Linked DNA regions of Homo sapiens. The protein of the gene in region 2 interacts with the protein of the main gene of each other region in a pairwise test. Each region holds a gene or a part of one and is shown on either strand. Other genes may lie near its edges.

Region 1 (16,015 bases), on a different chromosome or scaffold from region 2:
CATGTTTAAGTCAGAAAATTATGTTTTATGTTCCCGGGGTTTAGAGAAACTGGTTGCCAAAACCTGAGGAGGAGAAACTTCACCCCTGGACCCTCCAGGCCTTGAGGAGAGGCACAGTGCACAGTGGCAGGTGCATCCTAAACATCTTACTCCACGTCCATCTCAACCTTCTGAGGAAGGCCTTATCAGTCTTCTTTTATGAATGAGGAGTCAGGGGCACAGGCTGGAAGTGGCACATCCCAAGGCCTCCAGCTGGTGAATCATGGGGCCAGGCTCCTCATCTGTGCCGGGGACACCTATTTCTAAGAGTGGCTAAGTCTGGTCTCTTGGCCCAGTCTGTCCCCCAGGCTCATTTCCTGTAGGCTCTTTCCTCACTCTGGATGGAAAGTTTTTTTGTTTGTTTTTTTTTTTTTTTTTGAGACGGGGTCTCGCTCCATCGCCTAGGCTAGAGTGCAGTGATGCAATGTTGGCTCACTGCAACTTCCACCTCCTGGGCTCAATCAATTCTAAAGTGTCAGCCTCCCAAGTAGCTGGGATTACAGGCATGCACCACCACGTCCAGCTACTTTTTTGTATTTTTAGTAGAGATGGGGTTTTGCCATGTGGGCCAGGCTGGTCTCAAACTCCTGGCTTTAAGTCATCTACCGGCCTCAGCCTCCCAAAGTGCTGGGATTACAGGCTCATCATGCCCACTCGGGCCAGAAATATTCTATTTTTATATGTAGTTTCCTCAGTGAGTTTCTGGATTTGGAGCCATTGCCCTTAGATGTGATAATCTTCTCCGCTAACTGTGGATCTCTTGTTCTGTGCGTTTAAGCACTCCCTCCTTTATTGCTTTTAACCAGACATCACCGGTAACATCAGAAGAAGCACTAGTGAGTGATGTTATTTGCTGTTCTAAAAGTATACAATAAAGTTGAAATAATCCTCATCCAAGAAATCTATTTTCTAGTGTCAAGCTTAATTTCTTTTCTTTTTTTTTTTTAAACAACACATGGTTGGTTTTACCTTGGCGGTTCTGTGGAGGTTAAAAAACTCTTCAAAATTTTTTATCGAAACATCTGTGAAAGCAAGCCGGACCATATCTAATCAAAGAGAGAAAAATAGTTCAATATTGGTAGGATCATTTGTTCTCTTCTTAAGATGCAAAAAAATATGAGGATCAAATGGTATGAAGTAAAGTTTCCCCTCTCCCCGCTCCCTTCTTCTCTTTACCATGAAAAAGCAAGGCATGCTCTTTTTGCTTAATAATTTGCTGGAAGAATCTTAAAAGCAAATGACCCCTGGCATACATTTATTTGATATTTAAACTTTTTATCCTAAATAGCTGCAAAGAATGTAATTTCTTTTAAATTATAAATATTAATATTTTATAATACAACTCTTAATATAAGTCAAATCACTCTTAAATATATCAATGGAATTTGAGTGTCTACATTATCCATTTGAAAAAAATACAAGAACAAGCTCTTAGATTAAAAAATTTATATTATTTATCTTTTATTTTTGAAACTCATTTCTATTCTACTTCCTCACAGAATTTTATTGTAATACAAGGTATAGTATCTTTATGATTGAAAACCTCTTATTGATCTCCATGTCATACATTTCTGAAAAAGAAATAGGTATATCTATGTTGATTTTTATGACTATAAGGCTCTAAGTATTATAAACTTTCCTCTGGAATGAGTTAAGAGTCTACAATGGACCAAAACAACATGATTGCAGGTTTTGGTATATGATTATCAGGGCTAAAAGGTCAATTTTACTGGAAATACACCTCTGAATGAGCTGTTCTGAGGCTATCTCCAGCTCCTTAGTTCATGGATCCATGAGTGATTATTAATTACTGCTAAGATGAGGCAGCTGAAGTGTGAGTAAGGATACTGTCAGTCAAGGAGAGGATGAAGAATAGAGATTTAATACCTGGAAAACCAAGAAAGCAAAGCATTTCAAGAAGGGAGTGGATCCACAGTAGGATCTAGTTTCCTACCTATCCGTGACACACCTAGATTCCTACAGCACTCCAAAAGGTTCCAAACACATCTACACGTGCAGTTATGGAACCATTGGCTTTACTCCTCGGAGATTTCAAATAAACAGCCGATTTTGAGTGTGAAGCCAGCATAGCAGTGGAGCAGGGGGGAGGTGTGGTGTGATAGGAAAAATATAAATATTTTGTCTTTGTCCCCATTTCCTAACATAGAGCCCCTACATCTCTTGGAATGTCCAGCCTTAGGAGTATCTCGTGTTTTGAAGAGATGATGCCTGGTGGGCCCCTACATAGCTTCAGGATTGGGGCCGGGCACTAGAAAGACCAAGCCTTGGCTAGAAACTTAGAACTTCCAGCTCCACAGAGGAGGGAGGGCCTGGAGATTGAGTCAATCCTCCATCATGCCTTCATGATGAGGCCTCCATAAAACCTTCTCCGCGGTGAGGTTCCAAGAGCTCCCTGGTTGATGACCACATCTCTGTGCCATGAGGATGGTGCCCCCAACCCCGTGGGGACAGAAGCTTCTGTGTTCAGGCCCCTACTATGTGCCTCTCCAACAGCTTCATTTGTGCCCCTTATCAAATCCTTTCTAATAGACCAGTAAATGTCAGTGAAGTGTGTTCCAGAGTTCTTGGTTGACCTGAGGAATGGGTCGCAAGAACCTTGATTTATAAACAGTCCATCAGAAGAATAGGAGGTCTGGGACTTGTGACCGGCATTTGTAGTTGGGGCCAGTGTTGTGGAACTGAGCCCTTAAGCTATGGGGTCCACACTGACTGAGGGTAGTTAGTGTCAGAATTGAATTGAATTGTTGAATACCAACTTGGCATCTGGAGAATGAGAGGTTTGCTCGTTGGTGTGGGATGCACCCCAGGAGGAAAGTGCTGAAGTTTGGTGCTGGCTTTGGTTCGAACCTTTCCTTTCTTTAGAAATCAATGCTCAGAGGTGAAACTGAGCACTCACCCGTCACGGTGTGTAGCATATCCACAGCCGGCTCTTCCAGTGCCTTGATTTGCTGTTTCACGATTGTCTCAAATGTCCTGTAATTCACAAAGCCTGGCAGCTCTCTACCACGATACTGATTTTCAAATTTCTGGATTTTTCTACTCAAAATTTTATGGCCTATAGCAGGAAAAAAAACCCTCTAAATTATTTTACAAAAATAATCTTGCACATTTTTCTAAACACAATACCATTCTAAATTTTCTGAAAATATAAATGGCAAGAAAAAGTGGTATCAAATCAAATCTAACTGGTAAACTAAAAATATCCAGGGATTACACACACACACACACACACACACACACACACACACACACACACACACAAAACCAGATCTGAAGATAATTTTCCTTAGTCATCTCAGGAAGGGGAGTGCAGAGCCAGGTACGATGCCAGGAACCCACATACGCAGAAACTTCGAGTAAGACCCTTTTTTTTCATTTGTTTGTTTGTGACAGAGTCTCGCTCTGTCACCCAGGCTGGAGTGCAGTGGCGTGATCTCAGCTCACTGCAAGCTCTGCCTCCCGGGTTCACGCCATTCTTCTGCCTCAGCCTCCCAAGTAGCTGGGACTACAGGTACCCGCCACCACGCCCGGCTAATTTTTTTGTATTTTTAGTAGAGACGGGGTTTCACCGTGTTAGCCAGGATGGTCTCAATTTCCTGACCTCATGATCCACCTGCCTCGGCCTCCCAAAGTGCTGGGATTACAGGCGTGAGCCACCGTGCCCGGCCAAGACCCCTTCTTAAAAACGTACTCGAGTATGAAGTTTTGTGAATCCAATTTTAGTTTTACCAAAGAAATTGTACCATAATACACTCCTTGCCCTCAACTGCATGCCCATTAGAAATGAGCATGAACACTTTCTGGAATTAACAATACATCACATATTCATGTGTCGAAAGTATTGCCATGTGTAGAAAGTGTTTACAAGTCAAATGGGATAACAGAGTAAACCAGGCACATCAACTTGTATGAATGTGATACAGTAGCACTGTTCACTGTGTAAGATGCTGCATTTTTCTTTAAACTTTTGGAATGATTTGTACTCCCAACAATCCACACTAGAGAGAGTTAGCCCCATCAGAAGTTCAGAGGGTTTGAGTTCCTTTTTGAGTGGTAATCTAGAACACTTTTTTTAGTCAGGAAATATTTTCCCATAAGGATTTTTCTAATTGAGATGTCATTTACATAGTATAACATTCACTCTGTTAAAAATATATGGTTCAGGCCAGGCACAGTGGCTCACGCCCGTAATCCCAACACTCTGGGAGGCTGAGGCCAGTGATCACCTGAGGTCAGGAGGTCGAGACCAGCCTGGCCAACATGGTGAAACCCCATCTCTACTAAAAATACAAAAATTAGACAGGTGCCTATAATCCCAGCTACTAGGGAGGTGGAGGCTGAAGCAGGAGAATCGCTTGAATCTGGGAGGCAGAGGGTGCAGTGAGCCGAGACTGAGCCACTGCACCCCAGCCTGGGCAACAGAGTGAGACCCTGTCTCCAAAGAAAAAGAAAAAAAAAAGTGTATGGGTGAGTGAATTTTAGTATATTCACAAAGTTGTGCGACCATCCCCAGACATAACTCCCAAACCCCACATCCATCACCCATCAGTGATAACTTCCCACTTTTCCCTCCCCAGCCCCTGGCAGCCACTATTCTGCTTTCTGCCTGCCTGGGTTTGCCTGTTCTAGCCATTTTCTATCAATGGAATCATAGACCGTGTGGCCTTTGTGGCTGGCTTCTTTCACTCAGCATGACATTTTCAAGGTTCATCCATGGGGTGCTGTGGACCAGCACTCTGTGCCTGTCTGTGGCTGGAAATATTCCAGGACTTGGTGTTACGGGCTGAGCTTGAGTTGTGACCTCTTCAAACTCCAATGTTGAAGTCCTAACCCTCAGAAACTCAGAATCTGACTGTGTTTGGAGACAGGCAAAGAGGTAATTAAATTGAAATCAGGTCACTAGGGTGGGCCCTCATCCCATCTGCCTAGTGTCCTTGTGGGAGGAGATGAGGACACACACACTGAGGGACAACCACATGAGGACCCAATGAGAAGAGGCCATCTGCAAGGCAAGGAGAGAGGCCTTAGAAGGAACCAGCTCCACCAACATCTTGATCTTGGACTTCCAGCCTCCAGAACTGTAAGAAAATAAATTTCTACTGTTTAAGCCCCCCCAAGTCTGTGGTACTTTGTTATGACAGCCAAAGCCAACCGCTACACACAGACACAAGCCAGTTGGTTTATCAATTCATCAGTGGATGGTCATTTGGGTTCAGTGATATAGAAGAGAGCAAACATGGCTTTAGTTGTCACTAGCTCCTTATCCTGACCATCCTCCCCAACTGCCCCACTCTTCTCTGTCTTAAGCCAACGTATCAGGTTTACCACGGTATTGACTCATTGCTATGGTCTACATGTTGGTGTCCCCTAAAAATTCCTATGTTGAAACTTAATCCCCAGTGTGATGGTATCAACAGAGGAGACCTTTAGGAAGGATTGGGTTATGAGCACTCTGCCCGCATAATGGCATTCCAGGCATATCTTGTTTTATTGCACTTCACTGATACCGTATTTTTTACAAATTGAAAGTCTGTGGCAATCCCATGTCAAGCAAATCAGCACCATTTTTTTCCAGTAGCACATGCTCACTTTTTGTTTCTGTACCAGCAATTTTTTAGCAATAAGGTGTTTTAAACTAAGGTACATACATATTTTTTAGGCCTAATGCTATTACATACTTAATAGACTGCAGTAGGGCATAAATGAACTGTTTATGCACCAGGAACCAAGAAGTTTATATGACTTGCATTATTGCAATATTCTTTTTGTCTGGAACTGAACCCACAATATCTCTGAGGTATGCCTGTGGTACCCCTGTAAAAAAGAGGTCCGAGGAAGCTTGTTCGTCCCTTATCCCATGAGAGGACACAGCTAGAAGGTGCCATCTTTGAAGCAGAGAACAAGCTCTCACCAGACACCAAATTTCCTGATTCCTTAAGAATAGATTTCTCACCTCCAGAACAATGAGCAATAAGTTTCTACTGTTTATAAATGACCCAGTCTCAGGTATTCGGTTGTAGCAGCCCAAAAGAAGGGACTAAGACACTCACCTTCTTGAAAATTGTTTTCAATTATTGTACTCCATTTGTGGAACTCGTGTCGGAGTCTGGTAAACAGCCGAATGTCTTCCTCCCCTACAGTTTCCTCTCCTTGCATGAGAGCAGTGATGTCCTGATTAAAGGCATTAACTTTCTGTCAAGAAGAAAAACATCAGTATAAGTGGATAGACTTCAAATCCAAGTGTCAAGGTCATTTGGAGGCCGTGCCTATGTGGAGGGTGGGGAGTCATTCTTTGCTTTCTTATGGGACACTGTGGATCAGGGGAAAGAAGAGGTTTTGGCACTAGAAAATCCTATCCCACCCCTTACTGCCTTAGGGATCTGGGTGATGCTCGTGACAGAGTAGGCACAACGCAGCCTGAGCATCCCTCGCTGCTGACTCCACCCCCACATCTGCACTCCCTGCCCTGCCTCCCTCAGCCCTGTCCACCCTTTGAGTGCTACGGGCCAGATGTCTTTGGATCAGCCTTGGGGGAGTGAAGAAGGAAGTGCATAAGGCCCAGGGTCCCTTTTTTGACCATGACATGTGCTTCTCCAGCTCCATGCAGCTGGCAACACTCACATCTATCAGGAAGAACATTTTTTCATTTTCGTCTTCCGGTATGTCGACACCATACTTTTGTAGCTCCTCTGTTATTCTCTGGTGAGTCTCCTTGATTTGATTTTCTAACAGGGGCAGAGATTTCTGAGGAAAATGGAGAGAAAATAATGGAAATGTGTAAAGATGAACAGAGAATGAAAAGGAGGTCCCGGGCCTCCCTCTGCAGAGGAGTTGTGTGGGCCATTTGACTTCCTGGCTTCCTCTAAAAGGAAGCTTTTCCAGACCCGGGGGAGGTGCAGGGGGGCACACACTGGGGGCACTGTTTTCTGCCCAGGTCTTCCCCCTTCCCCACTCCTGCGACAGCAGCCTCATGAGCAGCACTGTGGCACCCACTGTGCATGGGTCCTAGGCCCCGGCAGAGTGACCCGGGAGCAGTTCCTCTGTGGTCATATTAGGTAAACTCTCTGGAGGGAGACTGGAGAGATCCACTTGTCTAGTAGGTTCTGAAAAAGTGGCATTTGGAGCAATTTGAGATTCAACAACTTTTATGTTGCTTGCAATCAATAAAAAGTGATCAGAGACTTATGTTTTTAACAATACGGTTGACGCCATATGCTGGCTCACCCTTCCACGGCAAACATCTAAAAATGCCAGCTGACATGTGAAAGCTGCACCTTTAAATGTATCGGTGGACTCACAAGTTAGTGAGGGGTAGTCAGAGGCCAGCCCCAGTAACAGTGGCCAGGCAGGGGCTCAAGGAGAAGGCAGCAATGAAGCCCGGCTCAGCCACAAGGGCATCTGTCTAGGTAAGAAAATTCGAACGGGAACTTATGAACCTGACTTGGTGCAGAGGCAAAAAATCAATCCCCATGGGCTTGCTCGAGGTGGGGAATCTAATAAGGAAGCATCCTCTTTCTGCATACAGTGGGACCCCAGAGAGCTCTGCACTCATCATGGTCGGCTGGAAACAACCCTGTTATGCACCCGCATTCCTGGGGACCACGTGGAAGACCTTGCACTCTGGTGCTGAGTTGAAAATTTGAAAAAGGCCAGTCTGGTCAACATGGTGAAACCCTGTCTCTACTAAAAATACAAAAATTAGCCAGGCATGGTGGTGGGCACCTGTAATCCCAGCTACTCAGGAGGCTGAGGTAGGAGAATTGCTTGAACCCAGGAGGCAGAGGTTGCAGTGAGCTGAGATCACACCACTGCACTCCAGCCTGGGCAACAGAGTGAGACTCTGTCTCAAAAAAAAAAAAAAAAAAAAAAAAAAGAAAGAAAAGAAAAGAAAAGAAAATTTGAAAAAGGAAGACACTATATTCAGGCAGACTTTTAAAAAGAACCACAGAGAGCTTTTACAAAGCTTTTAGAAGTTAAAAAATATGTTCATTAGAATGACTAAGACATTATAATAGTGGTTGTCAATGAGAAAGGAAGAGTTAGTAGCTTGTGCATAAGATTTTAATTTTTATTTTGGCCCAGTAGATATAGTCTATCAGCATTCCCCCTGACTGTGGTCCCCTGAAAAGGAATATCCACATTGTCTGGGGGCTTGCTGGAAATGCAGAATTCTAGGCCCCACTCCAGACCCACAGAATCTGAAACTGCATCTTAACAAGATCCTCAGAAGATCTGTGTGTACAGTGATGTTTAAGAAGCCAGCAAGGTTCAGCTCTGCGGTCGTAGTATTCTTTTTAGAGAACCCACAGCTCTGCCCGTGCTTACACAGATATGTGTGATGAGCTCGCTGGTAAGTTTTTCTGCCAGGCAGGGAACCGTGGCCTTTCCTTCCTCCAGCAGATCCCTAGAAGAGAACACAGGACCGATTTCCACCTTGATGTAGCCAGAACACGCATGTCTGCCTTTTTGCTGTTGGGGAAAGTCAAGGCAAATTTCAGTTGCTTACAACTGGATGGAATGTCTTGCAGTTGGTACCCAACAAATACTCAGAACTGGATTGAATAGGATTATGACTGAATTTTAGCAATCTAGGATATTTCCACAATGATATGGAATGAGCTCTTCCAGCTGATATAATAAATGTGTATCATGGTGTCTGACTATAGACTTGGTCATCACAAAAATACACAGACATGTATAGATATGTTTTTATAACACATACCCCCTTCTATGTGTAATATGTGTAGGTGATCATAATGGATACAGACATATCTTCATACAAATACATTGAAGCATATTGAGATAAATGGGTAGCAGAACACTGAGGAGAAGAGACACAAGATATCTTGTCCAAGATAAAAACTTAAACCATGGGCTGCCTGGAGGAAGGAAGTCAAGTATCTTCTCACTCGATCCAAATTTGTGCTCACAGAGTGAGTTATTACAGGGTTTCCCACATTTTATAGGACATTTTAGGATAAAGGCAGCAGTGAAGCATGAGTTTCTGTGCCTTTTTGTGAGTATACTCATACCTAAGCTTCAGTTTCTCTGTCAATTTTTCTAAATTGTGGTAAACTACATATAAAATTGACCATTTAACCATCTTTAAGAGTACACTTGAGTGGCATTAAGTACATTCACACTATTATGCAACCATCACCACTGTCTGTCTTCAGAACTTTTCATATTCCCAAACTGAAACAATGGCCCCATTAAACACTACCTGCCCATTCTCTCTCTCCCAGCCCCTGGTGCCCATCATTCTTTCTGTCTCTATGAATCTGACTACTCCAGGGACCTCAGCTAAGTGGAATCAGACAGTATCCGTCCTCTTACGACTGGGTTCTTTCACTTAGTAGAATGTTCCCAAGCTTCATCCATGTTGTAGCATGTGTCAGAATGTCTTTCCTTTCTAAGGCTGAAAGTATTCCATGTTTTTGTACAGACCACATTGCTTTCTGCATCCATCCATCAATGGACACTGAATCATCTCATCTTCTGGCAATTGTGAATGTGCAGAACAGGATGTAAGTTTCCATTTGATATTCCTGGAATTCTGAGTAATGGCTCTCTGTAGGCTTCTGGGAGAACTGAATGTAAGAATGTTTACAACTCTACATAGTCTCATCATTTTAAATCTTACCAATTTGTCAGTCTTTTCCTTTTAAAAAATGTCACTTTTGGTAGGAGGGATAGAAAAATCTTATAAACTATTCACCTACCTTTCTTCTGAGATGCTTATTGCTTCCTCTTAATATTTAACTTTAAACTTTAACTATTTTGGTATAATGAGATAAGTAAGGGCAGTATTTTAGTTTTTTCCCAAATATTAATTATCCTAACACCACTAATAGATACTCAAGCTGATATAGTCCACTATTTGATTTGAAATGCTGCATTTATCATGTGTCAAATATATATATCTAGGTCTATTTCTGGGCTTTCTACTTTTTTCCTATTCTCTTCTATTTATGTTTTTATAAAATATGGTTCCAGCACCATGCTACGTAAATTATTGTACATTGTTCTCTCCCTATTTTGATTGGTTTTTAGTTTTTTTTTTCTTGGCAGTATTTTGTAATCCCCTTCCTATTCTTCTAGGTGAATTCCATAGTCCTTGTTGGGGAACAAGCATAGTCACACACACACGCGCACACACACACACGCACACACACACACACACACTCCACACATCTGTGGGACGGCTGCCACTGTCCCCTGGAAGGCCTGACATCCTGGGCTTGGACTGATCCATGATGAAACCCAGGCAAGCGCACCTGAAATATGGGTGGTTCTCAAAGAAGATCTTCTCTCTCTGCAGGGCTTCGGACAGGCTCAGCTGGTCCTGGATCTCCTGCTGGCCCCGGCACTTGACAATCATGTAACCCTTCTTCAGGTGGAACACGAGGTTCCGCACCACGTCCACAACCTTGTCTTCAGTTCCTTTGTCCACCAGATCAGGCTTCGTCAAGATTCCTGCGAGCCAGATGTATTTGGGGAGAGAACGTGCTCAGTCACGAGGCAGAGGTGAACGAACAACTGCTCACGCCCCCGGCCTCCCAGGGTTTCCTCCCATCCTTGCTTGAGGACAGGCCATAGCCCCTGCAGAACCATGGGGGCAGTGGAGCCCCGCTCCAGAAAAGAACTCCACGACAAGCCGCGTGAAGGCAGGGATGCCTCCCAGAACAGCATGTGGCTCTCCCCAAGCTCCTTCACCCGGGTCCACTGTAGAACACGCCACGTTTTGTTTATCCCTTGAGTTATGGACATCCCATCTCAAATGCATTCTTAATGAGTACCATGTGCCTCCTGAGTTTGACCTGCTTCCGAGCCCACTGTGCCTTTCTGAGCAAGTAGATAAGGCTTACAAGGCAACCTAGCCAGTGAGAGTCAAAAGCAGCTCATTTCACTTGGCCTTGGTGGGCACCAAACCTGCTCCCTTAGCAGGTCTTAGTGGAGGCAGGTCCCCACTGAGCAAAGCCCATGGAGACTGGAGGGACGCTTGCCCACTGGCAGACCACCGAGCACAGGCGGGCTCCCCCATTCTCACCGAGCACAGGCGGGCTCCCCCATTCTCACCGAGCACAGGTGGGCTCCCCCATTCTCACCGAGCACAGGCGGGCTCCCCCATTCTCACTGAGCACAGTGGGGCTCCCCCACTCTCACCGATGGTCCTGTCTCCCTCGGGGTCCACCTCCTGGGCCATGCTGAGAGCCTCTGTGGTGGCGATGTCCACATTACTGGGGACCACCACCAGGCTGATTGTCTCCTGCCTCTGGATGTACTTCTTGATGAGTGTCTTGATCTGTAAGGAAATGAGAGGAGGTGACTCGTGAGTATGGCAAAGGCAAGTGAGAGGTGAGACAAGTCCTGACCTTGCACTTGCTTTAGGCCCTAAGAGTCCCAGGGGTATTTCCCCCAAAAGAAGTAACTTTGGAGAAATGAACCCACAAACACAACCCTGGAGGTACCAAGCTGGAATTATGAGAAAATAAATTATCTGTGGCAGAAGCAGAGCTATAGGCTCAGGGAAAACCATGAAGTTTCAGATAATTAACCCCTAAGACCTCAGATCTGATGGTCACAATGAAAAATGGTGGCCAAAAAACCCCACTTCACCCCTAAATCTTTAATCTGTAAAGTGAGATTCACTGATACTAAAATATCATTATACCTATTTCTTTCTTGCTTGTTTTGTTTTGTTTTTTGTTTTGAGACAGATTCTTGCTCTGTTGCCCAGGCTGGAGTGCAGTGGCACAATCACGGCTCATCACAGCCTCCCTGGTTCAAGCAATCCTCCTAGTAGCTGACAGGTGCACGCCACCATACCTGGCTAATTTTTTAACCTTTCTTTTATAGAGAAGGGGGTCTCACTATGTTGCTCAGGTTTCTGTCAAACTCTTGGGCTCAAGGAATCCTCCTGCCTCAGCCTCCCAAAGTGCTGGGATTATAGGACTGAGCCACTGTGTGTGGCCCATTATACTTATTTTTAATGCTCTCTTCCCACATAAGACCCCTTCCTAATACACAGCACTTTAGATATGCTGCAAAATGTATATAACCAAAAACAAGTCATTGCATAAAACATAAAACAAATACACAGAACACATTTCCAACTGTGCCCACTGGCCTCACTTTCTCCAAAGAAGCTTCCATTCAACTTGACAGAACAGACTGTGACCAACGGGCTCTCTAAATTCCCCACTCACACCTCCAAATACTAACTCCAAAACTCAGCTCTGGACTCACGGTTACTCTAATACAGTACCCTCTTTCTCCTCCCACCCCTCCACTCCCCCATCCCCACGCCACGGCCAAGGTCAGAATGGGTCTGAAGTCTGACCTTATACCCAATGTCAGCAGGCTGATTGCCCACAGCCACTCTGGTTATGCCAGGAAGGTCTATTAGAGTCAGATCCGGGACATCTCGGGAGCTGATCTCCAGGGTGATTAGCTCATGACTGATTCCCATTCCTTCCCCGGCGATGGCATTCTGGGCTAGAAAAGAGACAGGGAAAATCAAACCCAAACAGAGCTTAGGATAAACGGATCTCATGATGGTGAATACTCTGAAAGCATCTTCTCCTCTCTGCGAGTCATGGATAAAAGCATATTTGGAGCAGATTCAATTTTCTGTGATTGGGATAAAAGAGATCTCAAAGGATAACTCAGTATTTTCCCTGCTGTTGGCCAGCACTGTGTGTAGAGAGACCTTGTGAGAACGTCACCATGAGTGACACCCACTTAGACCAGTCCAAAGCTGGGCGGAGGCAAGAAGTTCTTCCTGGTAGCATTCCTAAATCCTTCTCATTGATGTCAGTAGGAAATTAGCAACCAAGCAAAATAAAAACAAATAAAAATATATGGAAATGCCTAAAATATAAACTGGAAAATTATATGGGGAAATGTGCTTATTTTAGCTAAGATAAGCACTGGCTGTTAACATCCCATTAAGAGATTTTATTTTGCTCCTTCCTCCTTAATGAATTTTAGGATATGAATTTGTTTCATCAAATTGTTGGCTAACACCACTTTACTCTTTTCTAAATCTAGAATGCCTTTTTGGGATGTTTGATATCAATTTAGAACTTAGGAAATATCAGTGGTTATGGTCCACTAATTGTTCCCCCAATATCCATGTACCTGCCATGTGGTCATGAGATCGGGTTCTGGCCAATGGGCCATGTGAAAATGTTATGTGCAACTTCCAGAAAGTGTGCTTACAAAGGCAGAGATATGCCCCTTGCCATGGTCCAGCTGGCTTCAAAGCGGACTTGCTGACTAAGTCACGGGGGGGCCTTGGAAACAGAGGCCACACCCAATGAAGAAATGGGAGAAGAATAAATCTTGGTTCCTGACATTGGAATCCCCAATCAGCTCTGGTCTGCCCGCCTTCAGACTTATATGAGAGGGACAGAAAGCCTCTACATTGTTTAGACCGCTGTCTCAGCAACTTGCTGGCACAATGGCATCCACATTCCCTTCCATCCCTGTATGCACGCTACTTTACAGGGTGCCTTCGTCACTTCCATGGAGAGAGAGAAAATCGGTCCCTTGAAATTGGGCTTGGCCACGTGACTTTCTCTGGCTAAGGGGATGTTACACAGTGCCACGTCAGGAGAGACCGAAAGGTGTTAGATGTCGGGTCTTGCCCTCTCTTGCTGCTGGGAACCCCTCCACCCACATTGATAAGTCCAGCTTAGCCTTCTGGAGGGTGAGAGACCACACAGACAGAAGGCCCGGTCACTCCAGCCAAGGGCCATCCTGGACCATCAGCCCCAGCCCAGCTAGCCCAGAGAAGAACTGCCCAGCTGGTCCATCAAATCATGAGAAATAAAAGTGGTCAAGCCATTAGTTTTAAGATGGGTTTGTTATACAGCAAGGGCTAAGGCACACAGTTATTTTGAGTTTTCTGCTGCAAGCAGCCAACCTAATCCCAACTAATTCAAAATCACGGTTTGTCAATAACATTATTTATCTTTCTTTAAACAGTCAACAAATGTGATTAATGCTCCATCTTTACAAATGCTAAACCCGTCCCTTCCTACTGCTGGGCATTAGTTCATGTCTCTTCAGTACCTTCCCAGTGTGAATGAAACTTAAACATGTGACATGCCAGAAAAACATGAAGGTCGATAGGAAGATGTTATCCATGCATCTCACAGAGGCTGTTCTTTGTCAGCTACTCTACCCTGTCTACACTGCTGGTGTCATTTCCCCTTGCAGACACTTCAAATTGATCCTTGTGGTTTGCATTTATGGAGGCCTGCCATGAATTAGCCTAAGCTGGGATTATGCAAACACAGTCACTCCTCTTTCTTAGAAAAGGGTGCTGGTTCTGAGTGGGGTTCAGTGACGATCCTGTCCACAATGTGGAGTTCCTTGTACAAAGGAACAGGGGGAGGAGCTCCCTCACCCCCATATCTGGCTCCTCTTCCTGCCAGATCTAAGTAGGGAAGCCCTTGAATAAGGGACAGATCATCCATATGTGGGGACATTTTAAAATTCACATTATTCTAGATACTTACATAATAAGCAATACATGTGTTTTTGAGACAGGGTCTCACTCTGTTGTCAGGCTAGAGTGCCGTAGCAAGATCACGGCTCACTGCAGCCTTGACTTCCCAGGCTCAAGCAACTCTCCCACCTCAGCCTCCTGAATAGCTGGGACCACAGGTGCATGCCACCCTGCCCAGCTATTTTAATTTTTTTTTTTTAAGAGACGGGGTCTCACTATGTTGCCCTGGCTGGTCTTGAACTCCTAGGCTCAAGCAATCCCCCCGTGTCAGCCTCCCAAAGAGCTGGGATTACAGGCACAAGCCACTGTGCCTGGCCAGAAATAAATGATTGCTATCAGATGCTGATATCCAAGCGTGCTGGTCATAATGAGGTAAAAGAAGTAGAAGGAACCGTGGCCTGATGTGCAGGAGAAAGGTGTCCTGACAGCACAGGCCCAGGGAGGTGGGAGTATGAACAGTTACAAACAGACCCCATGCATGTCAGAAGGCTTGACCAGGCATCCAAACAGGGGGTACTCACCTTTATTAATTTCCTTTTCTACCTCTGAAGCATCCGAAATCTCAATCTCGTAGTCCTGGTAACTGACCTTGCCTCTCCACTTATCTTCGTTCACAAGTTTCTTCAGTTTCAGCACCAGCGGGCATCTGGTCACGATCCCTAGGAGGCCACGCCCACATCAGTGCTCCACTTTGCTCTTAAAAGACCTACATAGCGCCTTAGGCCCATGGTTCTCAAACTTTTATACAATCATATGGGGAGACATTTAAAACTGGAAACTTTCTGGTCTTACCCTCTGATATGCGGGGACATCGCACTGTGTCTGGGTGACCTCAAGAACATGCATTCTGAGTATGTAACCCAGGTGAGTTTTTGCTTACTAACGCTTGAAAGCCACCACTTTTGGCTTCCTGCCTCATCCCAGTGTTCTGCCATCAGCTCAGGTGGCAGACCACATTGGGAATCCCCCGAAACTCATCCGAACATCTTCCATTATCCCCCCAGCATACACACTCTACCCCCATTAGGAAAGCATCCTGCTGCTACCAGGCCACCTTACAACAGTCCTCCTACTGTAAACTCCTTCCATATTCTTCCTACCACACCTGATCTGTATTGCAAGACCCGTCCCAGGCCTGAACTCTTTGAGACCTCACTGATATAGTTCTGAACTGGGGGACCCAAATGTGTTTATTCAGATTCTCCTCAAACTGTAGATTACATATGACTTATGTGAAAAAAATGTGCAATGAGATAGCGTTATGAAATGGTGTTCCCTCCAAATTCCTATGTTGAAGCCCTAACCCCTAATGGGACTGTATTTGAAGATAAGGCCTTTAAAGAGGCAATTAAGGTTAAATGAGGTCATTAGGGTAGGCCCCAATCCAATATGACTGGTGCCCTTATGAAGAAGGGGAAGAGACAGCAGAGATGCTTG
Region 2 (17,553 bases):
ACTGAAAACCAGAGGCAAAGAAAAAATCTTCAAAGAACTCAGAGAAAAAAAGACACATTACATACAGGAGACTGTCCATATGAATTACTGCTGACCTCTCATCAGAAACAAGGAAGGCCAAAAAGCAATGAATGACATCCTCAAAGGGCTGAAAGAAAAATAACTGTCAATCAGGAATTCTACGTCTAGCTAAACGATTCTTCAAACACAAAAGTGAAACAAAGACATTTTCAGATAAGCAGAATCTGAGAATTTGTTGCCAGGAGACCCTCACTATAAGAAACACTAAAAGAAATGACCCAGTTAGAAACTTGCCTCTAAAGGAAAAAAAATAAAGAGCCCCAGACATGACAAAACTGGGTAAATATAAAAAACTTGACATTTTCACTGAAAGACAACAGATTGTTTCAAGTAAAATTGATGAAATTGTTTTGTGGATTTTATAATGCATGTAGATGTAAAATATATCAAATTAGTAGCACAAAGGAGGAAGGTAAGATGGAGAGGTTGCAAGTCTACATTTTAGGTGAAGCGGCACAATGTTAATTCTAAGTAGCCTATGAAATGTTAAAGATTCATATTATAGGCCAGGTATGGTGGTTTCATGCCATAATCCCAGCACTTTGGAAGGCGGAGGCGGGAAGACAGCTTGAGCTCAGGAGTTTGAGACCAGCCTGGGCAACACAGGGAAACCTTGTCTCTACTTAAAAAAAAAAAAAATTAGCCAGGTGTGGTGGTGTGCACCTGTAGTCCCAGCTACTAGGGAGGCTGAGGAGAGAGGATCATTTGAGCCTGGGAGATGGAGGCTGCCGTGTGCCATAATAGCGCCACTGCACTCTAGCCCAGGCAACAGAGTGAGCCCCTGCCTCAAAAAAAAAATCCATATTATAATCATCAGAGCTAAAAAGTCAACAGAGAGATGAAACTGGAATACTGAAAAGTTATTCAATTAACAAAAAAAGGCATGAGAGACAGAAGAATGAAAGAGAGTAGAGATAGAAAACAGACCCATACTAGCAACAACATGAAACTCAAAAACCTGTGTTAAGTGAAAAAAGCCAAACCCAAAAGAGTACATGCTGTACGGATTCTATGAATTAAAAACCCTTCCAGATCAGTCCACACTAACCCATGCTGATAGAAATCAGAACAGTAGTTTCTTATGAGAGGTGGGGATTGCCTGGGAAAAGGTAGATAACCTTCAAGAGGGACAGGAATTTATAGATGTTGATCGAGGTGGTGGCCTACGCAGAGTACACGTTTGTCAAAATTCATAGAACTTAACAATTAAAATGTGTGCGTTTCATCTTATGTATATACATTTTACATAAACATCAATTTTTGAAAGCTTCTTAAAAACTCTTGCAGAGCCTCCGGTTATAAACTTTAATCAACAGAGGGCGCTCGGAGCCCACCAAACACGCTTTGGGCCCCCAGCTACTTAGAAATGCAAATCAGAGCAGCTCTGGGCTCCCCCGTCTCCGAGGTGGATCGCGCAGCTCCCCAACACTCCCCCTCGACACCCCACCTTCCCCACCCGCGGCCTCGCCGGCTCGTTTCACCACACGCTGCTTTTTGGCTGATAAGCGGCTCGTGGCCAATGGCGATGATGTGTTTCGCGGCACCTACGCGAAATACAGATGCGGGTGGGAGCTGGCGCGTGCTGCCTGGAGGTGTACCTGCCCCCTAAGGTCCCCTATTGATAGGATCGCTTTTAAATTGGAAGTGGGAACGTAACGGAAACGTCCACTCTGTTCTTGCCATCTTCCTTTTGACCTTTTTACCTCGCTTTGGTGGCTGTGAAATATTCCCGCGCAGGAGCTGGAGCGGGGAGGAGTGGGGCAGAGCACGGGAGGCACAGAAGAAATTGTCCCCGAGGAAGGCAGAGTGGGGGCGTGGCCCCAGGCTTCCAGAACCCCGAACCTTTGTCTTCTTGCCCCCTCCTGCGTCGTCCACAGCTCAGAAGGAAGTCAGCGACCAGAAAGCCCTGAACGTCCTTCGCGCCCTCGCCCACCCCCGGGCTGGGTCTCCCCGCGGGCGCGGAGATGCCGTTACACCCCACGTGATCCCTGCGCCCGGCCAGTCCTTCCAGAGGCGTCTCGCGGGGTGTTAATTAAAGGTCACAACAAAACAGACCTGCTGGCTCACCAGAAGAAATGTCCTCCCGTGAAATGAAAAATGACACCCCAGAGCAGCCACGTGTGGAGCCTGGCATACGCCGGCTTCCTGCGCTCCTGGGCGCTGCGCCGGGGGACTGGGGCGGGGGGCGATCGGAGAGGGAGCGATGACGGGGTGCTCCGGAGACCCCGCGGGGCCCAGGCGCAGGAAGAAACGGGCGGCGGGGGGCGAGGGGCCCGATCCCACGCAAGGAGAGGCCAAGGCCAGCTCGCGCCACACCCCCTCTCCAGGCCAGAGTCGTCCGCGTGCAGCGCGGCGAAGCCCTCAGTTTCCCCTGCCCGGCAGCGGCCCGCTGGGTCACCAGGCTCACCTGTCCCAGCCCCGGGCGGCTTAGTCCATCACAGACCGGGGCTCGGGCGGGCGGGGGACCAAGGGCCCTAGTCCTGCGGCTGCGGTCGGGGAGGGTGGCCCCCCGGCCGGCCCGGGGTCGGTAGGGCAATTCCAGAAAAGGTTTGCCCGGCAGCTCTCCGAGAACAAAGGGCGGGGGGAGGACCCGGCATGTTTGTGGACTTGTTTGTGACTCAATCCCTTTTGCACGGCGTTTCACAGACAGACCTGCAAGCCTTGTCAGGAAGAGAAAGAACTTGGGGGCGGGGGAGGCTGGGGCACCGCATTTCCGTCCAGCCACGCTCGCTCGCGCGGCCCCCGGGCTCCAGGCTCGCGCAGCGGCGTTTCATTAGAGCCCCGGGCCCGGGCCGCGCGCCAGGAACTTCCCCGCACGCGGCGAGATCGACGATCCCCCGCCCCCAGCCCCAGCCCGGCTCCAGGCCTCGCAATGTCAGGCACGAGCGCCGCCACATAAAATGGATCCCGGCCGGCGCGGCGAGGGCGGCAGGTTCCCGAGGCTCCTCCGCGCTGCGCCCGGGCGCACACGCGCGCTGTGACCGCCGACCGCTCCCGGGCCACGCGGAGCCGCCCCTCTCCCGGCCCTCGCGCAACTGTCAGGCGAAACGGGCCGGCGGATATTGGCTCGGCGACACGCCGAGGCTCCTCCCCGAGTCTGGATCTTTATATTTTGGGAGAATTTCTTTGAACTCAGTTACCAAGCTCGGTGAAGGAGACAAGTTCCCACAGCTGACTCGGCTCGGCTCTCCCACCTTCCCGGCAGCGGCCGCGAGCCCTGATTGTATCCCTCGCTTTCCTCGTGGGGGAGCACGGACTGACTTGGCTGAAGAAAATGCCAGTTCTGTGGATGTGGCCGTGACAAGAGGACGTGCGGCTGGAAGAGGCAGAAGGGGACGAGGAAAAGCATGCTTTGAAGAGAAGAATAAACCAGCGACCCCAACCCTTTCTGCAAATTGGTGCTATTACTTGTGGGATCCATTTGCTTTCATTCCCTCCCACCCCACCGCTGAAGAAACCTTGCCCTGAGGGCTGAGAGCCAGCCCCCTGCAGCCGGGGGACGCTTCTGGGTTGGAGGACCTTCTGGATGTAGCGTCGGTGGAACCTTTAGATACTCTCCTCTGGAAAAGCCACCATGAATTCGGTAGCTGGGAATAAAGAGAGGCTTGCGGTCTCCACCAGGGGCAAGAAATACGGGGTAAGTTGTGACGGTACGACGCGGAGACGCGTTACCAGACCCATCTCGGCGGAGGTCCCCCTTTCCCCGGGATCGTGCGGCCCCGGCCCCGAGCTCTCCCCCGCTGCAGAGGCGCCCCCGGGGCTGGCGGGGTTGTGAGTGCGCGGAGGCGGGTCGGCCGCGGGGACGCCCGCACGCTCGCCTCGCTCTCGGAATTTTTTCAGCCCTCTCGTTCCTTCCTTTCCACGCACCCGTAACTTTTGCCGCATTCCTGCACTTCTAGGCAGAGTGAAGCCGAAGGGGAGGGTTTCCCATGAATGCTGGGCAGTACCTCGGATCGTTTAGCTGGAGCCGTGAGAGCCTCTCGTTTACCTGCAGGATCCGGAGAGTTGGACCCCGTATGAATAAAAATCCTGAAATCACAGCCCTCCCCCTACCCCCCCCATAGGGTCTTCCAGGATTTTGTTCCCGGGATCTTGCTGGGATAGGTGCCGGCTTCAAAAGCGTGGGGCGCTGAACCTATGGATCCCCCCCGCCTTGCAGAAGCCGTGGAAACGGCCCCGAGCGAGTCCCCTTCCTGACCCCAGGAGGAGGCCACCGGGGACCAGCGCAGGGGTCACCTGGGCGGTGGGGACTCACTTAAGGACAATTAACGAGACAGACGGAGGGCAATTTGGCCGCAGGGCTTGGAGAGGTCCCCAACCGACTCCCGTGGGCGGTTCGAGCGGGTACTTGGTGGCGCACGTATGACCCAGCTCCTGGGCGCTGCAGCCCGCCGCCTTGCAGCCCCTGACACCGGCGTGTCTTCCCCGCAGGTGAATGAAGTCTGCTCGCCCACCAAGCCCGCAGCGCCCTTCTCCCCGGAAAGCTGGTACCGGAAAGCATACGAGGAGTCGCGCGCCGGCAGCCGGCCCACTCCTGAGGGCGCGGGCTCAGCGCTCGGCTCCTCGGGGACCCCGTCTCCCGGCTCGGGCACCTCGTCCCCGAGCTCGTTCACCGGCTCCCCGGGACCCGCCTCCCCCGGCATCGGCACTAGTTCGCCGGGCTCCTTGGGCGGCTCTCCGGGCTTCGGCACAGGCTCCCCGGGCTCCGGCAGCGGCGGCGGCTCCTCCCCCGGCTCGGACCGCGGCGTCTGGTGCGAGAACTGCAACGCCCGCCTGGTGGAGCTCAAGAGGCAGGCCCTGAGGTTGCTCCTCCCGGGGCCCTTCCCGGGCAAGGTGAGCGCCGCGCGGGGCTGGCTGGGGAGGCGCCGGGAGGGCGGGGCCGGGCCGCCACCCACAGCAGCTGCTCAGCCCGCCGCGACCTTGCGCGCCGGCTCCACGCGAGAGCCCCCGGCGGCGCTGGGGATGCTCCACACCTCACGGGGCTCTAGCACGCGGGGCGACCCATGCCCCTTCCTCAGCCAGGCCGCCCGGGGGGCAGGAGGACCGAGTCCCGAGCGCGAAGGGGCGCCCGTGGCCACAGGCCTCACGGCCCACGGGGGAGGCCCCCAGGTGGTCTCTCCTGCCGCCCCCTCCCAGCTCTCCCTGGCGGCTGCAGGCTGCGCTTTCGATGTTTCTCCCCACCCCCACCTGTGATCCTTTACAAAAATGTCAGCGGGAGCTGTAAAAGCAAGCTGATGCTCGGAGCTGGCATTTCCCACTGCCTGTTTGTGGTCCATCCTTTCCGCGGTTGCAGAAACAGAAACATACTCGAAAGCCAGCATTTTCCCCTTCTCAGTCTGTGTGTGTGTCTGAGGAAGATCCGGAGGCGGGTGGCTCTTCGGAGCAGTGCTCCCTCCTGGCCTGCTCCTGCGCCAAGCACACTGGTTCCTCCATAGCAACCCTGCCCGCAGTGTGTGACTGGCCCGAGCCCCCAGGGGATAGCAATGCGATTGTATTTGCACTGTTGGGTCCAAGTACTATCAAATGATCATATTTACTCGGCCACTTCAAAGAGTTTTTATCAGTGGTTAGAGAGCAATATCAAGGAAATAGAGTGGATTGCTGTAGAGGTTTTTGACACTGTTGGTTCAACGTCAATTTCTGGTTTATTATTTCCGTGACTTTAGAAATGAAATACTGTGATTTCGAGTAGGCGTTTAGGAATGACTGCGTCTGCTGGCCCAACCTGCGTATGCAGATACACACGTTGATGTTTTCATAGGCAAGGGTTAAATTCAACAAATGCCCACAGACGCTGTGAAACTTAAAATGGGGGAAATGACCACCAGGAGAATTGGTTTTATGAATGCAGAACTTATCTCAAGAATAATGAACTCGTGGATGGTTGTCAGTGTACCGTTTTTGTAGTTTGATACATCTGCCGTGACATCCCAAGGATACATCTCAAGGAATCAAAAAGCTTATTTCGCTCTTGCGTGCTAGACCTTCCGATTTAACACCGTTTCTTCATTCACAGATTTATTTGCTCTCGTGATCCTTCATCAATATTCATTGATTTTCTACTCCATCCGAGGCACTGTGTCAGGCACAGCAATGAAAATACCAGGTCCATTCATGCAGTCCTTGTCCACGTGGAGCTTAGATTCTAGTGGAGGATACAGATAACAACCACAAAATGCACAGTTCACAATGTCTTCACATTTGTGGAGGGAATGTAGGGTGCTGTGAGGTTGTTGAACTGGATGGGAGCATCTGATAAAGATGGAAGGACCTTGGTTCTTAAAGATCTAGTAGCTGATATTTGGCAGTCCTAATACGTTACAGCCTACCAAATTATTTTAGACCTTTCTTGAGGACCTATTCTTATAATAGGCTTATTGTGGCTTTGGGTGTTCCTATATGCAAAGGCCGATCAAAATACACTCTTCTCATTTAAAAAAAGAGGAGGGGAAGGAAAATCTACAGAGGAAACAAATGTTGAAACTCATACGCATCCATCATGTTTTATGGAGTCCTGTGACCAGCTGGAATCTTGTTTTTATAGAAACAGCCTGGAACATTCACTTACAGTGTCACGGGAGGCAGCTCAATATATTTGCCAATTTTATGTATGTGATAAGGTAAAACTCTTGTTGGTAAACTGATTGTATTGTCAGAGTGAGGTGATGGCCCCAGAAGAAACACTGGATTTGCTGAACCCCCATGCTCTACAATGACTTCGAGTGATCCAAGGACATCTAGAGAAGACCTGGCAGTCATGGGGGCAGTCACAGGGGATCACTTTAAGTGCATACGTGAATGTCACATAGTACCACAGTCGCCTGAGTTTTATATGTGAAGCAGCACAGTAAAGCGTGACATTTGGTGCAAGGGCATAGACAGGGCTCAGCCAGGAAGAAGGATGCTTTGCATCAGCTCATTGTTAGTAATGAGATGTGGGGCCTCAATTTTAACTACAAAATTTCTGCAAGCCTTTGTGAATAATAATTGTGTGTGTGTGTGTGTGTGTGTGTGTGTGTGGTGTGTGTTTTAAGCATTTGTACCTTGCATTTAGGTACAATTTCCATTATACCTTTAGCATTTGCAACCTTATAGCCAAACAGTTGCCATGTTCTCTGGTGTACCATGGATGGAGGCCATGTAACTTGGATAAGACTTTTCTTCTTCCCGGAGCAATATTAATGAACAAACTGTGGACCACTGTAGCCCTCAGGCACAGAAGGAGTTAAGTTTCATTAGAACAAGAGGTGTCACTGTGACTCCAACATGCAGTTCGCTCAGTTCGCTCTGAAGAGTAAGAGTCTGGAAGATAAAGACATGTTTTTGAGGAGTAATTAACAAAAATCATCTGTGTAATTTGCTTAAGATGCTTACCTGCATTTGGGAAATATTTTCTTAAATAGAGTGTTAAATTCTACTAGGTGGTATTAAATGTCTCCTAGGTAGATATTTAAAAGTCAAAAGCAGAATAGCACATCCAGGAACCTTAATATTTTAGGATGGATTTGGTTTTGGTTCTTCTTCACCACTGATTTACTTTGTGACATTGGGTAAATTAGTTTTCCTCTCTACTTTTTAACTTTCCTATTAATATCCTAAGGAAAAAAATGAATGAGACTATTAAAACGTCATTAAAATGATCCAAGGTAAGGTCTGAAAAGTGCTTTCATTCTTTAGAGAAAGATATGAGGGTTGATGATTATTAATGAGCTAAGATTCTGTTAGATTTATGTTTTACAGAATTTAAGGTTTTTCTTATAAGATATTACTCCTGTCAGTTTCTAATTTCATCTGTATATTTTCTAAACATGCTGCCATATGAGTTCTCACACTGTGCCTGTTGGTAGGTAGCAAGCCCTATTGAATCCCCCGTTCTGTCTTTGGAACAGTTGGTTAAGGAGGGGAGGTGAAGTAGTAGAGAGCCCATTCCGGGTATCTGGTTGGTTCCAGGAGCTAGTGCCTGGCTCTGGTGGCCTGAGAAGAACCATCTTATTCTGAGCACTCCAATGGAGGATAGGGCTTCATGGTAGAAAATGACATTATTTGAACGTAACGGAGTGGGTGATAGTGTTGGCTGAGGTAGGAAATAGGAGGAGACATGGAATTGGATGGAGCTCAGAGGGAAGGATGATCATGAGTTTGGTTTTCCATGCAGCGAGTCTGAGCTTTCTGGAAAGAGATGGAGGCAGATTTAATAATAAAACACTTTGTTTTTGGCTATCTCAAGACTGGCGTGTAGAAGTGACAGCTGTGAGCTCACATAGCTCTGCTGTTGATACTCTGTATTCATCCTTTCCGATAGCAACTTACCTGGTGAGTAGACGTTTGTGCTTGGTGGCAGATTGTAAAACACTCAGATTGACTTTTATTACCTTGATCAGTACAAAAAGTACTTACTGGGTTTATATCGTTTCTCTTTTGGTGCCGGTGAGTGGAAGTGGTCGGATAAAAGAATGTGGACGTGTAAAGTGTTGAGATTTTAAGTGAGAATGGCCCTTTTACCCACTGTAGCCTTCCAGTGTGTGAATACAAAACCATTTCATGTCCAATGGCAAGAGCATCTTTCCTGCTTTGTACACAGTCAGGGCACTGAGCCAGAAATAGGGGCCAAGGAACGAATTGCTCAATTTTGGGCTAGCCTAGATCATTCTGATATCTGTGACAGAACTTTTGAATGGACTGGGCAAGTCCTACGAAACAACAGCCCAACGAAATTCCCTGGAGTAAGCAGTAAAGCTCCAGGTTGGCAAAAGGTTATCAGACATCTGTTCATTTCCATATCAATAAAAGAAAATCTTTTATGTAAAAAAAAAAAAGTGCAGAACTATGTTCCTATCTGATTGTCTCTCAGTCAGATATTCTGAGTCCATTTATGCCCCAGAAATATCAGGAAGATTAGCCAGACATACTGAGAAGGGTGGCCAGGAATCACAGAGATGAAAGAAAGGAATGCGTCATAGGGGTTAAAAACGCCAAACGTGGACTCTAAATAGCCGGAGACCAAGTAAGTCTAGACTTGAGGAGATATAGATATCCCCACATGCATATTTCTGTATTTTGCCAGCTCCAAAAGAGGGGTATGGAAAAATAACTAGACGCAAAAAGTCCCCCAAAAGCCATCATAAAACATTTTATAGATAGGATAAAACAGACATTGCATTTCGAGTACTTATTAATTATAAGGGACTTCTAGCTGAAATCTTCTCTTTCTTCTAAGAACATGTGGCTATTTTCAAAAAGCTTCATTTGAGTCTTTCTCATATCAGAAGTATTTTAGATAAAGGAGCAGTTAGTAGATAATAGCAGTCATGAAAAAGTCCTACAGCATTTATCATTTGAAAATTTCTGAAACATTTTGGGAGTTTATAAAAACATTCCCAGGAGAGACATGTGAGCAGTAATCTCTTTTTAAGGCTTAGCAAGCTGTGGAATAATGGCAGTTCATTCTACCAGACTATTAATTGTGAAGCAACATGGTCAGTTTTTATAGTGACTTAATTCACTTTGCAAAAATCCCTGGCCTGCAATAATTCCTTCCACACCCATTGCAGATAGGATTACTACATTAGAAATGTGATTTTTAAATGGCTGAGGCTGGTAGTTTGTCAGCATTTGGAAGGATTAAGTCAATTAAAATGGAGGCAACATCAGTTGCCATTTGTTATTTGGCATTATATCACAGATTGTACCATGAGTGGGCCAACAATAGCGATGATAGTAATAATAATAATATGTAATAAATGGCTAACAACGATTGTCCTACATACCACGAACTACACTGAAACACACACACACATAATCTCATATATTAAAATGAAGATGAACGTGATTTTTTCTTTTTTACCCTGGAATTCCAAGTGCTTGATGTGGTTAAGATCATAGAAGGAAGCATGAAGAAAAAATATGCAAGGAACAGAGAAATCCAATCACACTTTCCCCTAGAAGCTGTTAAGGGTCCCTGTGAGTAGAACTGACTGAGTGAGAGGCACCGGCTCGAGATGGTTATTATTTTTCCTGGGCTCACAGATGAGAATTTTACTTCCAGTGAGTGGGGAGGTTGGGGGAAAGTATGTGAGACTGTCAGGTTCTGAGTTGAGGAATTGTCTTGGCTGGAATGCAAGGGGCGGGGGGAAGGAACCTCCTTATATTTACGTGCACCCATTGGAGACCCTGTTGTCATCCCTTCCTGAACAGAAAACCCTGCCCGAGGGCCCCGTCCTGACCTTCTGCGAGGAAGAGTTCTTCAGCCGGCCATTTCAGTGCCCCATCGGCAGGGCGGCCAGACCTCTGCTCTGTTTTGTCCTCAAAAAGATTGCAAATTGGCTGGTGTCTGGGAGGGTTCTTGGTCATTTTGCAGGAATACAAGACAAATTTCCTTTTTACCACTCTCTGCAGTCACAAGCTATTCATCAGCATCCTTTCTTTCCTGTTTCTCGTCTATGGTGTTATTGTGGCGAAGGAGCACTGTTGAGAATGTGCTCCCAATCGCTCTTTTATACCTATAGATGCACCCATCAGAAATATCTTTTTTTTTTTTTTTTTTTTTTTTTTTTGAGACGGAGTCTCGCTCTGTTGCCCAGGCTGGAGTACAGTGGCGTGATCTCGGCTCACTGCAACCTCTGCCTCCTGGATTCAAGCAATTCTCCTGCCTCAGCCTCCCGAGTAGCTGGGACTACAGGCGCCCGCCACCACGCCCAGCTAATTTTTGTATTTTTAGTAGAGATGGGGTTTCACCATATTGGTCAGGCTAGTCTCTATCTCTTGACCTTGTGATCCACCCGCCTTGGCCTCCCAAAGTGCTGGGATTACAGGCAGAAATATCTTATTTTAAAGTACATTCGTGTAGATGCAAAAGGACTGGGGATACACCTGTATTCCTAATGTACTTTTGAAATATTTGTCAAGATATCAACTCAGTTTGTATCCATCATTGGCTTACCATTGCCTTTGGAACTGCTCCAGAGCCTATCTGAGAAAATTGGAAATGAGTGATTGTTAAAAAGATGTTTGTCCACCTCCAGGTCTCAAAGAACTCACCTATGTTTTCTTCTAGTATTTAAATAGTGTCCTTTTTAATATTTAGATCTCTAATCCATTGAGAGATTATTTTGGTGCAAAATGAAAGATATAGATCAAATTTCATCTTTCTCTAAATGTCTATCCAGTTGTCCCCACTTTATTAAAACATTCTTCTTACTTGCAGACTTCTTCTTGTGAAAAAAAGAATTTATCTTTCTCACATTAATTGAAGATACCACCATTGTCATAAATCAAATTTTCAGTTGTATCTGGACCTATTACAGGATCTTCTAGAATGTTCTCACTCTGTTGTCCAGGCTGGGTTACAGTGGCACAATCTCGGCTCACTGCAACCTCCGCCTCCCAAGTTCAAGCAGTTCTCCCGCCTCAGTCTCACAAGTAGCTGGAAATACAGGCACGGACCACCATGCCCAGCTAATTTTTGTATTTTCAGTAGAAATGGGGTTTCACCATGTTGTCCAGGCTGGTCTTGAACTCCTGACCTCAAGTGATCTGCCTGCCTTGGCCTCCCAAAGTGCTGGGATTCCAGGTGTGAGCCACTGCGCTTGGCCCACACTATTTTAATTATGGAAGCTCTGTAGCATGTTTTCATGTTTGGCAGGGCTAGCTCTCTCTCCCTCAAATAGTGCCTTTCTTTTCTAGGAGTTTCCTTGCCTAACTCCAATTTTTTTTTTTGTTAGGACCGTGTTGAATGTATACATTAACCTGGGGGAATAGTTGGCATCTTTATGGTGTTGAATCTTTCCCAAGAACATGGAATACCTTTTCATTTGAACAAGTCTACTTTTTAGCAATTTTTAAGAGTTTCTTCATATAGGCTTTGCACATTTCTTGTTAAACTTTTTCTTAGGTATTATAGCTTTTGTTGCTATTGTAAATGGAGTCTTCACTTTCATTATCTCTTTTAATTGATAATTATTTATGTGAAGGATATTGATCTACATGTTTTATATCCCGTCGCCTTATTAAATTCTACTATATTCACTGATTTTTAAAAAATTGGTACTCTTGGATTTTCAAAAAATTTTGTCTTCTTCAAATACAGATATCATTACTCTCTTCCTTTGCTATTTTTATGCCTCTAAGTGTTTTCTCTTTTTTGTTACATTGGCTGGTACTCCTGACACAATGTTACATAATAGCGATATAGTGGGCATGTGTATATATTTTTTTCTATTAAGATGTTGGCTTTTGGACTGAGATCTGTCTATATTTTTTAAAGTTAAGTAAATATCCATCAATTCCTACTTTAGTGTTTTATTAGGAATGGGTATTATATTTTGCCAAATGTCTTTTCAGTATTTAGAGAGAGAATCATGCAATTTTTCTCCTTAGATTTGTTAATATTGTGAGTTATTATTATTGATTTTCTAATAGTGAACCATCCTTGTATTCCCATAATAAACCCCACTTGGCCACAGTGCATTTTGAAAGATATGCTTCTGGATCCAATTTGCTAATATTTCATTTATTGTTTTTGCTTTGATATTCATATGCCAATGAACATTTTTGATTCCTGTTTATGTGCCAGTTCTAGTACTATGCCACATTATAATCCAAATAGGAAAAATACTAAAATTCCTGCCCTGGAGCAACTCACAGTCTAGTGTCAGAGACAGGCAAGGAACGTGGCGAAGCGTAAGCGTTCCAGCCACAGGAAACGGCAGGCATAGGCCAGGAAGGGGTGATGCGTGCCCCCTACATATGGGGAACTGAAGTCGCACATGGTCACCATACACAGTATTTGTATGAGTGCGTGACAGGCTGGAAAGGAGGCAGATGGAGGATGAAAGGCCTTGTAGGCTATAGGCTGGACTTTATCCTGTAGGACGTGGGCAGCCATTGGAGGGCACTCATGAAGGGAGTGAAATGATCAGATATGCATTTAAGAAAGATTGCTGGCCAGGCACGGTGGCTCACGCCTGTAATCCCAGAACTTTGGGAGGCCAAGACGGGTGGATCACCTGAGGTCAGGAGTTCGAGACCAGCCTGGCCAACATGGTGAAACCCCGTCTCTACTAAAAATACAAAAATTAGCCGGGCGTGGTGGCCCACACCTGTAATCTCAGCTACTCGGGGCTGAGGCAGGAGAATCGCTTGAGCCCGGGAGGCGGAGGTTGTAGTGAGCCAAGATGATGCCACTGCACTCCAGCGTGGGTGACGGTGCGAGACTCCATCTTTAAAAAAAAAATAAAGATTGCTGTGAGAATGAGCAAGAAGATGGGTTGGAAGAGTGGTGTCACCGAGACCAGTTGGGAGGCCCCTTGCAGTGGCTTGAGTGAAGAATGACACAGACTGAACTAGGGTAGTACAGAGGGAAGGGAGAGGCAGCTCCGGCCTGACACATATCATATGTAGAAAACCCGCCATGGGGAGCTGCTGAGATACGGGGCCAGAGGGAGAAAAGATGATGCATTCTCCCAGGTTTCTGGCCAGGGAAAGTGTGTGGGTGGTGCTGCCAGTTATGGAGATGAAGAATACAGGCAGAGAAGGGGTTTTGTTATTGTGAGCCCAGTGTTCGAGGATGGCTGTGGATGTTAAATTGATTGGGGTCTCTAGAGCTTGAGGTGGAATGGTCCAATGGGCTCCTGTTGGCGCTCTAGAGCGGCTTCTGAGGTGGAGATATGGATCTGGGGGATGTCAGCGTAGAGAAGGTGATGGAATCCACAGACGGCATGAGCTCTCCACAGATGTGTGGGGTGAGACGACAGACAGCTGAACATGAAGTGGTGGAGACCATTGACATCGAAGGGACCAGTGGCCTGAGGAGCTAAGAAGACAGACCAAGAAGGAGGGACCAGAAAAGAGGGATGAAAAACCAGGAGAAGACAGTGTCATGGGAACTGAGGAAGGAGTGAGCTTCAGGGCATAGGGGTGACAAAAGGTCTGATGCCCTGGAGAGGTCAAGGAAGTAAGGACTGAGGTTTTCTTTGAACTGGCAAGGAGGAGGTCATTGGATGTCTTTGTTGGAAGAATTTCTGGTGCCCTGGAGAAAGCCAATGGCATTGTGTCCAGGAATAGATTGAGAGGTGAGGACATCTCAGGCAGCATTTGAGTTGCTGAGGACACTGAGATACAAGAGATCCACTTCTTGAGGCTCTTATTATCTTAAAATGAAGAACTACAATCAACAGACTTGCGTGCAAAACCAGGCTCCGTCACTTAGGGTGTGACCTTGGGCAAGCCTTGGTCTTTCTAAACGTGGTTATTCTCATCTCTACAGTGGGAGTCATGACAGAGCCCCACCAGGAGGATCGTGAGGATTAGGTGAAATTGTGAGATGCTAGTCAACCATCGCTTTCTGTTATTATTCCAGTGACTTTCCACAGGAAGTTGAATTTTATATAAGATTCCTACCCTCCTTCCTTCCCTCCTTCCTTCCCTCTTTCCTTCCTTTTTTCCTTCCTTCCTTCCATCTGACACGAAAATGGAGAAACAGCAGTCAGAGAAAATGAAAGCATTCAGTGCGTCTTTGTTTCTTCACCTCCAAGTGGATAAAGCATCTCATTCTTATTTATTCATTTGTAGAGTTGTCACCACAGAAAGTTTAAGGGAGCTCAGTGGATGTAAATAGCGACTCCTTTGGGTTGAGGTGCCATGAATATGGATTGAGAGTTTTTTGTCACAGATGGAAATCCCTTCTTTAAGCCCGGCCCCTCTCGTAGCCCCTCCAGGGAGACTTGCAGATGTGGCATTTGGCATTTCGGCTCCGGGGAATGAGGGAGAGCAGATTTCCTCCAGTGACTGCGCATGCGATGTGCAGATCTGAGCCGCACCAGGAATTTGGGCTTATCTGCCTTCCAATCCAGCTTTATCTGTCTCAGACGGTTTTCTTTGCAGTTGTACTTTGCTGATCCTATCACATCGATTCCAACCAGACCCCATGGGAAGTCTGGGAATAAAGAAGTCACCCTCCCCCACCAAGCAGGATATCCTGCACATACATCAGCTCTCAGGGCTGGAGGTGACCGTGGAGGAGAGGGATCCTGTGAGCTCTAATACAAAAAACCGAGACATTCTGAACGTTGCTATAGAGGTTAGCAAAGCAGAAGGCTCTGAGGGTAGAGTAAGTATTATTAATTTTTTAAATATGCAGAACGATAAATATGTCTTAAGTGTTATAGACCAGGTTACAGCTGAGGGACTATTTTGATTTTCCTTTTCTACTTATTGGAGTTTACGTTCAATACTGTTGCCAACCACAAAAAGTTATTGGAACAAATTTTAGCTCTCCACACAGCATGGTTCTAAAATCTTTGATGGTTCTTACGTGTAAACTTTCTTTTTATATAATTGTTTTTTTTTTTGCTTGAAAGCATGAGCTGCAAATAATAAATTAAAATCCGCTTTTCTATCACAGGGGTGACAAATAGAAACTTTTATTTTGATATGTCCTTATCTAAGTGATGTCTGAGGTCTGTATATGCTAATTCAGGATTTTTTTTCTGAGCTAACCTAGGAACCGATAGAACTTGAGATTTTTCTGCAGTGTAATTTTGTCTTTGAGTTGGCAGTGATGAGCAGCTACACTTCCCCATGAAACTCTATCATCGTATTTAGAGTGGTTGCTTTCTTTGGGGTTATAATCACTACTTCCCAACCCTTCCTCCACCTAACTGGTGGCTTCACACAAGAATGGGAGACTCACCTATTAACTGATTAGAAGCCAGCAATAACAACCAGCACCAAAAGCTGTCGAGCTATCTAACCAAATGGTTGTACAGAAAATAAACAGCTGAATTCAGGCAAACAACTGGAAGCAGCCACCATTGTTTAAAAAAAAAAATCACCTGCCCAGTTCAGTTGTGTAACTTTGCACAGCAGGGAGTCTCAGTCCTAAGCAGGTGGCAGAGTGTCTTCCCCATGGTACCATGGCTGGGAATTAGAGCATCAGGTGTCCTTTACCAAGACAGGCAGCGTGGTGATGGGGGCTGAGGGATAGATGGGAGGAGGATAGAAAGGAGAGGAATAAGAGGGGAGGAGGAGGAGGACGGATGAGAGAGAGGGCGAGGAAACAAAGAAATGGGTGGTATACGCATCCAAGGTTGTCTACAATCCCAGATATTTAGGTGAAAAAGGACTGTCCTTGGATCTGGGGACAGAGGTGCAGTCCTGCTTCCAGCACTGATAAGCATTATGATCTTGGGAGAATCACCTAGCTGGCCTGTGCTTGATTTTTCTTTTGTAATCTAAGAGCATGGTAGTCGGTGGGCTCTAAGCTTCTCCCAAGCCTGTGAGTCTCTGTGAAGCTGAGGCTTTGGGAGTCCACTCCGTGAACCCAGATTCCACAGGGATGTGCCTGGCAAAATCCAAGTGGGTTTCTGGCTGAAGCTGTTCTGTGGGCTGCCATGTTTGTGGGACATCTCATCTGCAGCCGCCGCAGCGACCTCCTTGTCCGTCCAGCCAAGGGGAGGGACCGGAAGCCAAGCGGAGGGGCCGGTAGCGCCGTCGTTGCTGATGCTTCTGCTTTTGGAATTCGGATCATAAACTGACAGGGTTCTTCCTGTTTCTTAATAAAGCTATTTGTTTTACTGTCTAATGTGTTTCTAAGCAGAAATAGACAAACAAAAGGACAATTGATTCTAGAAGAGAGATTTAGTATGGAGTATTTGAAGAAAAGTATTGCCTTAGAAATAAGGATGTTTTGTAGTTAATTTTACATTAAAAGTTCTGCCATATTGATTAGGATTTAGAAATAACATACGAAGAGTTCTTCCTGAGTAGCAGTATAGGAACACCAGAACTCTATAAACATTTTATTCATCATTCTTCATCTGATTTTTTTCCAAAATCTTTTTGCTCCCTTTGATTTCTCTCTTTTTTTCTGCTCTTTCAAATGCCTAGACAGAGCCATATTGATTAGGCCAGTATTTACATATCACATGCCCCTGACGTGGGTTTAATGCCCCGTAGTGTTTGATGCTGTGGTCTGGGAAAGAATGGAACAGGTAGCTGCCCGCTGAGTCAACGAGGCCCATGCAGTTATCATCGATTTTTATTTTTCTCTTTAATCATTTAGCCAAGGTTGCCTCTTTAAAATATCTACTTCCTGGGGGATGTTTCCCTGACTCTTATTTCAAATCTAATACTTTGTATTTGAGTCTAAACACAATTCAGGGAATATAGCTATTAAAAGCAGAACTTGATTTTGTTTAACTAGTCCAGAGCGCGTGATGGCTTTGGAGCAGAGTGGAGAACAGGCACAGAGGAGCACGAGCCCCAGGAACACCACTTGGTGCCCCTCCCTCGTCCTTCCACCGAGCTCTCTGCACGTATCTTACCAGGGCGTGAATGGAGCATTCTGCAGCCAGACACATCCAACCCACAGCAAACCCTCCATGCAAGCTTGCCTGTGTCCTCAGACATTCTACCCTTTATTTCTCCTCTTGTTCTTTGCCCCTAAGTTTGTCCATGCACTCGACTTTCTAACGG

Evidence for each region.
Region 1: the proteins of KIF26B (region 2) and MX1 interact in a two-hybrid assay, tested with the Homo sapiens proteins (one study listed by BioGRID).

What each region holds. Positions count from the first base shown.
Region 1 is NC_000021.9:41,436,237-41,452,251, reverse strand, and holds part of MX1 (interferon-induced GTP-binding protein Mx1), read right to left. Parts: intron 15,238-16,015; coding exon 15,100-15,237; intron 12,559-15,099; coding exon 12,404-12,558; intron 11,366-12,403; coding exon 11,227-11,365; intron 10,537-11,226; coding exon 10,338-10,536; intron 8,465-10,337; coding exon 8,386-8,464; intron 6,805-8,385; coding exon 6,682-6,804; intron 6,253-6,681; coding exon 6,111-6,252; intron 5,139-6,110; coding exon of another isoform or gene 4,960-5,138; exon of another isoform or gene 3,116-4,959; coding exon 2,957-3,115; intron 1,086-2,956; coding exon 1,009-1,085; intron 1-1,008.
Region 2 is NC_000001.11:245,151,770-245,169,322, forward strand, and holds the start of KIF26B (kinesin-like protein KIF26B), read left to right. Parts: upstream 1-3,215; 5' UTR 3,216-3,655; coding exon 3,656-3,718; intron 3,719-4,512; coding exon 4,513-4,914; intron 4,915-17,553. UniProt on the Homo sapiens protein: Essential for embryonic kidney development. Plays an important role in the compact adhesion between mesenchymal cells adjacent to the ureteric buds, possibly by interacting with MYH10.